Homo sapiens: one gene and its partner. The protein of the gene in region 2 purifies or fractionates together with the protein of the main gene of each other region. This does not show direct contact. Each region holds a gene or a part of one and is shown on either strand. Other genes may lie near its edges.

Region 1 (4,217 bases), on a different chromosome or scaffold from region 2:
CCACGGCGAGCTGGGCGGTTCTTTGCACGGGACCTTAGTCCCAAGCCACCTGCCTGGGCAGGGAGGAGTCCAGCCCGCCCACTGCTCTCAGGCTCTCCAAAAGCTCCAGGGCTGCTGACTAGCTGGGGCTGGCCTCCCCTTGCAGTGCTGGGTAAGACCGGGCTCTTGAGACAGACAAGTGCCTGGGGGCCCCTGCAGGGCCCTGGAATGGGGGCTGCGGGGTGGGCCTGGGGAGAGCTGTTCTGAGAGCCCCGAGGGCCCAGGAGGCTGGTGTGTTGGCGCCATCCCTGTCCCAGCTGTGCTCACAGTACAGGCTCCTGGGAGTGTTTGTAGTTTCCACAGAGGATGAGCAAGGAGCATCCCTGAGCTGCCTTCTGGGGCCAGCAGGCTCCGGGGGCAGCCACGTCCCACCAGGACATGGGGTGGGCAGCCCAGGCCATGGCTGCCCCTAAGGAGCTGAGGCTGGGTCCTAAGGAAGGACAGAGGCCTGGGAGCCAAGCTGTGGGGCCCGACCGGGAGCAGCTCATTTATTGAGCAGACATCTGCCGGGCAGTGCCCCCTGCACCCCTCATGGGGCTCACAACACCCCATGAGGTCGCTGGATGCAGCCCGTCCCACAGATGGGGAACGGAGGTACAGAGCAGCACATCACGTGTCCATGGCCCCTGGTCCACGCCCAGCCGACTCTGCCTTGGGGCCTCACTGAAGGGTGGCTGCCACCCTGAAGGGGCCACTGTTGGGCCATTCCTCAGAGCCAGGGTCTGCAGGTGGCATGCCCCAGCCAGGCCTCGAGTCATCGGTGGAACTTGAGGGTCACCTCCACTGGAAAGTGGTCGCTGATGGCAAGAGCCTGTGGGGACAGAGTGAGCCTCAGGGGAAAAGTGCACCCCACCCACAGGGATGGGAGGGGCCGGTGAGGCCTGGGTGCCCACCCCTGCTGCTGCCTGCGGTGGGGCAGGGGCAGGGGCCGGGGCAGAGGGTGTCACCACTGGCCCTTTGAGGGAAAGGCAAGGTACCCTGCCTGCCCAGAGCTCCACATGGGGTGGGCCGGGCTCTCCAGGGTCCTTGGAAACGAGCCCTGGTGCAGGGAGGAAGCTGAGGTGGCCCTGCCTTGGGCGCTGGACCCTCCCTGCTGCCTGCGTGCGCCCGGGCGGTGGGGACCCAAGACCAGCACCGCCCCACGGCCCACTCGCCTGAGTCTGGTCCAGGCCGAATTCCTCCTGGAAGTCGTGCACGGTGGCCGACTGGGGCTTCAGGCTCCGGCGCAGGCGGGCGCCACAGGCCACAATGCGGTCGTAGGCGCAGTCTGAGTTGCCCACCGTGGTGTCGGCGCTGTCAGGGATGAGCCACTTGAAGACCTCACTGCTCCTCAGACGGATGGCGGCCCAGTCCTGCGCCCGCACATAGCTGCAGTCGGCGTTGAAGTCGCCCAGGAACAGCATGTCCTGCGGGCGCCGCGGAGCCGTGTCTGAGCCGCCGCAGGAGCCGTCGAGGTCCCGCCCTCATGAACCAGACCCCCGGGGCGCGCCTGCAGGGACCCCGGGACCGAGGGGTGGGCTTACGTCGGTGCCCCACTTGTCGATCACGTCCAGGTACACGTCGTAGAGCGCGTCGATCTCCGCCACGGCTTGATGCGGCGCCGCGTGCAGCGGGATCAGCACCAGGTTCTGTGCTGCTGCGGGAAGGGGTGGGGGCGTCAGAGCTCGGCGGGAGGGGAGGGGCGGGGCCCGCTCACCGGTGCCGGGGGCCGAGAACTTGACCACGAAGGGCTCGCGGCTGAAGACGTCCTCGGGGTCTGGGTACAGGTAGGTGTCCACGACCGACACCGCGTCTTTCCTAGGAGATGGGGAGGACCCGCTGAGCCCCCGACCTGCGGCCCCGCGCGCCCCTCCCTGCGGCCCGCCCCTCACCTGTACACGAACAGGTACATCTCCTTGTACTGGTCCCGGCCCAGGGGCTGGCTGCTCACAAAGCTGTACTCGTGCTCGGACACGCTGCGGAGACAGGGGCCCGCTCAGGGTCGGGGCGCCGCGCCGGGGCGAGATCCCGGCGGGGGGTCGCGACGAGGGGCCCTGCCCACCACACCTGTTGATCTGCTCCATGAGCGCGGACACGGCGCTGAGGTCTGGGTCTCGCACCTCCTGCACCAGCGCGAGGTCATAGCCAGCCAGGATCTGGGGAGGAGCGGCGGGTGCGGGGGTCAGCGCGGTCAGCACCCCTAAACGCCGCCCCGCCCCGGCCCGGGCCCCACCTTCGCGATGATGCTGCCGCAAGCGGGGTCCGACACTTTGCTGTCACCGAAGCTCTGAATGTTGAAGGCTCCGATGCGAAGCGCGGCGGTCCCGGCGGCTTCCAGCGCCCAGAGTGCGGCCAGCAGAGCCCGGGGCCCGCCCATGGCGCGGAGCGAGAGGCTGGGAGGGACAGACGCTGCCGCCTACGCAGACCCGCTGTCAGACCCACCGACCCACCCCTTCCCTCCGCGGCCGCCCCTTGACGGCCAGTGCGACGCGGAATCCGCCCCTGCGTTCTGCAGGCTCCCAGGGCACTGCTGGGCTCTCAGGGACCGCTGCCTTCTCACTGCGCGGGAAGCTGCAGCCGGAATGGAGGGTCCGGCCCATCCAGCCCCAGCTCAGGGCAGCCGAGAGACTCACCTTGGATGTGGGTGCAGAGGCCCGAGGCTCAGAGATCCTAGGGGGATGGGGATCCCGGGTCCAGGCTGCGGGCGTGTCCGACACAGGACTGCACTGACTCCCTCTGGCAGTAGCTCTGGCACCAAGGCAGGGGCCGGTATTTGAGGTCCTGGGCCAGGGAGGGGCCGGGCTGCACTGGGTCCCGCCCCCTCGACTCAGCTGGGTGCCTGATGAACTCCTGGCTTTCATTCCCATGGAGACCCCCAGGGTAAGGGGTGGGAGACCTGCCTGAGCCGGTTCTGGTGCCCCAGACCTGTCCCAAAACCGTCCCAGAAGCCCCTGCCAGCCCCCTAGGAGGGAGGTAGACGGTCAGCCACATCCCGGTGCGGCTGTGTTCTTGTCCTCGCCCCTAGAAATTAGGTCGCCTAGACTCTGCCTCCCTGAGCAGAATCCCTTCAGGGAAAGCAAGGCAGCGCAGGTAGGACCAGCCACACTCCCTACCCAGCATCTCCTGCTGCTGCTCCACCTGCTCACCCTGCGGTGGAGGCCGAGGCTCCCAGATCTCCCTGTCCCCGTCCCTGGTCCTCCCACCCACCCACAGGCCTCAGGCAGCGCAGCTGGGGGCACAGCTCCAGCTGGGCAGGGCAGGAGGCTGTTGGTCAACATGCCAATGACACCCACACAGCACCAAGGCGCCGCCAGGGCTGGCAGAAGCCCCTGGGTGGGGCGGCCAGGCACGTGAGTCTAGGAGTGGCCTGGGAGGCAGGTGCTGCTGCGGGGGCCTGGGCAAAGGTGGTGGCACCAGCCGCGGAGGCTGCCACTGCCACAACATCACAAGCTGCAGGTTCTCATGTTTTATTGTAAAGCAACAAGAAACTCTTATGTACACTGTCCGTCTTGGGGCGCCTCCATCCTGTGCCATCTTCTCTACCAGGCCAGGCAGGCATGGGTGGGGCGCTCAGAGTCCTCTGCCCTGTCCCTGCCCGGCCAGGACCCCGCAGACCTCATGCTAGACGATGACCGTCTGCACCTCCAGCTGGCCCTCCGGCGAGGCGATGACCAGCTCGCCTGCATGCTCCAGGATCTCGATGTCCTCTGATGACACCATGGTCACAGTGGCCTGTTCAGTGCCACTTGTCCCTGCCCGGGCGGCAAGCACAGTGCCCTCGCTGATGGCCGAGGCCAGCGTCATGGCCACCTGCTCTGTCAGGCTCTCGGGGGTGGCGATGGTGATGGTGTCGGCGGCAGCCGCCTCTGGGCCCAGCGCCGTCTCCTCGTCCATGGTGACGTTCTGCACGATGATCTGGTGGCCGGCGCTAGCCTGGTGCACGATCTGCTGCACCACCTTCATGATGTGGCTGTCCACCTGCAGGGCCACGGCTCAGCAAGAGCGGCTGTGCCAGGGAGCCTCCCCGCCCCCGCCTGCCCTACCCCTCACCTCTGTCTGGGTGCCCTCGATGATCTCCGTGGCCTCACTGGTCTCCGCATCGTCCGCAGTGGCCTGGGCAGATGGGCAGAAGGACAGAGGTCAGCCTTGGCTGCCCCTGGGTCCCAGCACGGCCCCAGGGCCCCACACCCACCTCGATG
Region 2 (3,500 bases):
TTGACCTGATCAGGTGACACAGTGGCACAAGATCCACTCGAGGGAGTATCGGAGTCCCAGCCCGAGCAGGGGTCGCTGGGAGCCTGGGGGATATCCTGCAAGGTGGGACTCGTGGGGGTCTCCACGTAGGGGTCAGCGGCTTCCAGCTTCAGCAAGCCCCCCCTGTACCCCTCTTTCCCAGGCGCATCACTGTCCCTGCGCTTCCTCTTCTTCTTCTTCTTCAGCTTGTCCGTTTTCTTTCTGTCCAGCAGGAAGTTACTGGGCTTGGCTCGCTGCAAGAGAGTAGGCTGCAGGTGGCTAAAGCAGCGGTCAGAGACTGGCAAGGGCACTGAGGACGCGATGTCTGAGAAACCCGCGTCCCAGCCGTCGCTGTCAATGGTACCAGCAGTGCTGTTAGCAGGGCTGGGGCTGCTCCTTAAAGGGAGTTCCTAAAAAGACAAAGGTGGCAGATTCCAGTTACTGGTGACAAGATCCAGCCCAGAGCAGAGCATCCCCAGCCACCCAGCCATGTCAGACCTCCAGAGACATCTGCACAACTTTGAGCTTCTCTGCCCATCAGCATCACACTTGAAGCAACAGTAACATGAGTTCTGGCTGGGCGTGGTGGCTCACACCTGTAATCCCAGCACTCTGGGACGCCAAGGCAGGCGGATCACCTGAGACCAGGAGTTCAAGACCAACCTGGCCAACATGGTGAAACCCCATCTCTACTAAAAATACAAAAATTAGCTGGGCGTGGTGGTGGTGCCTGTAGTCCCAGCTACTTGGGAGGCTGAGGCAGGAGAATCGCTTGAACCCGGGAGGCAAATGTTGCAGTGAGCCACTGCACTCCAGCCTTGGTAACGGGAGGGAGATTCTGTGTCTCAAAAAAAAAAAAACCCAGTGCCATCAGTGCCATGAGTTTAATGTGATGCCACGAAGAGAGAAACTCCCTGCTGAACCCTCAGCCCCATCTTAGAGACAGAAAATTCATCAGTGTGCAACAGGTGTCTGTGGGAAGGAGTGCTGTGGACACCCACTCCTATCTGCTCATTGTTCCCTGATTGTAAAACCTCTCCTTCCATTTGCCCTCCCAAGAGATATATTGTTTTAAGTGAATTTAAATTAGTTTTGAGAATTTCCTGACACTCTTAAAAAACTAGACATTCCAAAATATTGCAGAATCCAAGTAGGTAATTACTGCCCCAAAGCAGTGAAGTAAACTCTATGGTTCATTCAGATCACAAGCATATCATTTGCAAACAGTGGCAACGTCCTCCTTGTCTTGCTAGAAAACAGGCATTAGGCTGGGTGCGGGGGCTCACACCTGTAATCCCAGCACTTTGGGAGGCTGAGGCGGGTAGATCACCTGAGCTCAGGAGTTCGACACCAGCCTGGCCAACATGGTGAAACCCCCTCTCTACCAAAAATACAAAAAAATTAGCTGTGCATGATGGCTGACACCTGTAATCCCAGCTACTTGGGAGGCTGAAGCAGGGAGAATTGCTTGAACCCAGGAGGCAGAAGTTGCAGTGAGCTGAGATCGCACCACCACACTCCAGCCTGAGCCACAGAGCAAGACTCCGTCTCAAAAAAAGAAAAAAAGAAAGAAAAGAAAGCAGGCATTAGCCACCTATGTAGCAGATGGAAATAAACCAATGCTGGCAGTTTGCCTGCTAGAAATATACTGAATGCAGCTGGGCACAGTGGCTCGTGCCTGTAAACCCAGCACTCTGGGAGACCAAGGCAGGAGCATCACTACCTCGAGACCAGCCTCAGCAACACAGTGAGACCTTGTCTCTACAAAAAATAAAATTACGGCCAAACGCAGTGGCTCACGCCTGTAATCCTAGCACTTTGGGAAGCCAAGGCAGGTGGGTCACTTGAGGCCAGGAGTTTGACACCAACCTGGGCAACATGGCGAAACCTTGTATCTACTAAAAATACAAAAATTAGGTGGGTGTGGTGGTGGGCCTGTAGTCCCAGCTACTTGGAAGGCTGAGGTGGGAGGATCACTTCAGCACAGGAGAAAGAGGCTGCAGTGAGCCAAGACTGTGCCACTGCACTCCAGCCTGGGCAACAGAGCAAGACCTGTCGCAAAAAAAAAAAAGCTGGATTGTTCAATTTTGAGCTTAATCGAATACGAAAGAGGCCTGAAGTCTGAGCACCACAGCCGCTCTCCTCCAGTCCTGCCCTGTTCTCAGCAAGTGAAAAAACCTCCTTCATCTACATCAAGTTGCAGCCATGAGTCCCTGAAGACAATCATACGCATTTCGGGCAGCCAGGGAGCTGAGACAGAGGCAGCGTGTGCACTGAGTCCAGCCATCTGGTTGAACCCCAAGCTCCACCACTAATCAGTGGGTGACCTAAGACAAAGTTTTCCCTCTCTATGCCTTAGTTTCCTCAGCTTATAAACTGGAGATAAAAAATAGCACCTACCTCATAGCATTACATAGGCCAAGAATAGTGTCCAGCTATGGTCAACAGTCAGTAACTACAGACCCTTATTAAAAGCAAGCAGACAGCCAGGTGCAGTGGCTCAACGCTTGTAATCCCAGCACTTTTGGGAGGCCGAGGCGGGTGGATCATGAGGTCAGGAGTTCGAGACCAGCCTCGACAACACGGTGAAACCCCGTCTCTAGTAAAAATACAAAAAACTAGCTGGGTGTGGTGGCGCGCCCAGCTACTCATGAGGCTGAGACAGGAGAATCGCTTGAACCCAGGAGGCAGAGGTTGCAGTGAGCCACAATTGCACCACGGCACTCCAGCCTGGGCGACAGAGCCAGACTCCATTTCAAACAAACAAACAAAAAGAGCAAGCAAATATCACATATTTTATTTGTAAATAAACTGAAAGTTTACTAAATCGGCTGGGCGGTAGCTCACGCCTGTAATCCCAGCACTCTGGGAGGCCGAGGCAGGTGAATCACCTGAGGTCAGGAGTTCGAGACCAGTCTGGCCAACAAGGTAAAACCCTGTCTCTACCAAAAATACAAAAAAGAATTAGCGTGGTGGCGCACGCCTGTCATCCCAACTACTGAGGAGGTTGAGGCAGGAGAATCCCTTGAACCCGGGGGTGGAGTTTTACGACACTGCACTCCAGCCTGGGCGACAGAGCAAGTTTCCATTCCAAAAAAAAAGAAAGTTTACTAAATCATTTTCTAGACAAGCCTGCATTTTCTACCAGAGTTTTTACCAGAGTTTTAGAACCATTTCCCCAGCTAATTCAAACTCTCAAGAAACAGATTTCTGCCAGACTAGTGACTGGGGTCACCACAAGCAGCCCCTTCCAAACCTACTGACCCTCTGACCAGTCAGAAGCCCACGAACTTGCGGTGGAGGCACTGGGTTTGACTACTCATCAAGAAAGGTCTCAGAAACTCAGAAGATTACCTCCTTCGGATAAGGGATGTAGCCAGCATAGGCCAAGACAAAGGTGCAGAATTTGTTGAAGTCTTCCACGGTCCTGCGCCTCTTGCAACTGGGGGAGTATTCCTATTAAGGGGAGAGAAAAGGGAATG

The links. Proteins that work in one complex are often made in the same cells at the same time.
Region 1: the proteins of PHF13 (region 2) and DNASE1L2 purify together in Homo sapiens (affinity purification with mass spectrometry; 3 studies listed by BioGRID and IntAct, with this or other methods). This does not show direct contact.

Annotation. Positions count from the first base shown.
Region 1 is NC_000016.10:2,234,995-2,239,211, reverse strand, and holds DNASE1L2 (deoxyribonuclease-1-like 2 precursor), read right to left. Parts: upstream 2,769-4,217; 5' UTR 2,652-2,768; exon of another isoform or gene 2,435-2,651; 5' UTR 2,396-2,434; coding exon 2,252-2,395; intron 2,175-2,251; coding exon 2,086-2,174; intron 1,995-2,085; coding exon 1,911-1,994; intron 1,837-1,910; coding exon 1,563-1,836; intron 1,446-1,562; coding exon 1,194-1,445; intron 851-1,193; coding exon 794-850; 3' UTR 501-793; downstream 1-500. Other genes in the region: transcription factor E4F1, read right to left, coding at 3,640-3,996, 4,069-4,131, 4,211-4,217. UniProt on the Homo sapiens protein: Divalent cation-dependent acid DNA endonuclease involved in the breakdown of the nucleus during corneocyte formation of epidermal keratinocytes.
Region 2 is NC_000001.11:6,616,731-6,620,230, reverse strand, and holds part of PHF13 (PHD finger protein 13), read right to left. Parts: intron 3,475-3,500; coding exon 3,373-3,474; intron 429-3,372; coding exon 1-428. UniProt on the Homo sapiens protein: Modulates chromatin structure and DNA damage response by regulating key determinants of chromatin compaction and DNA damage response.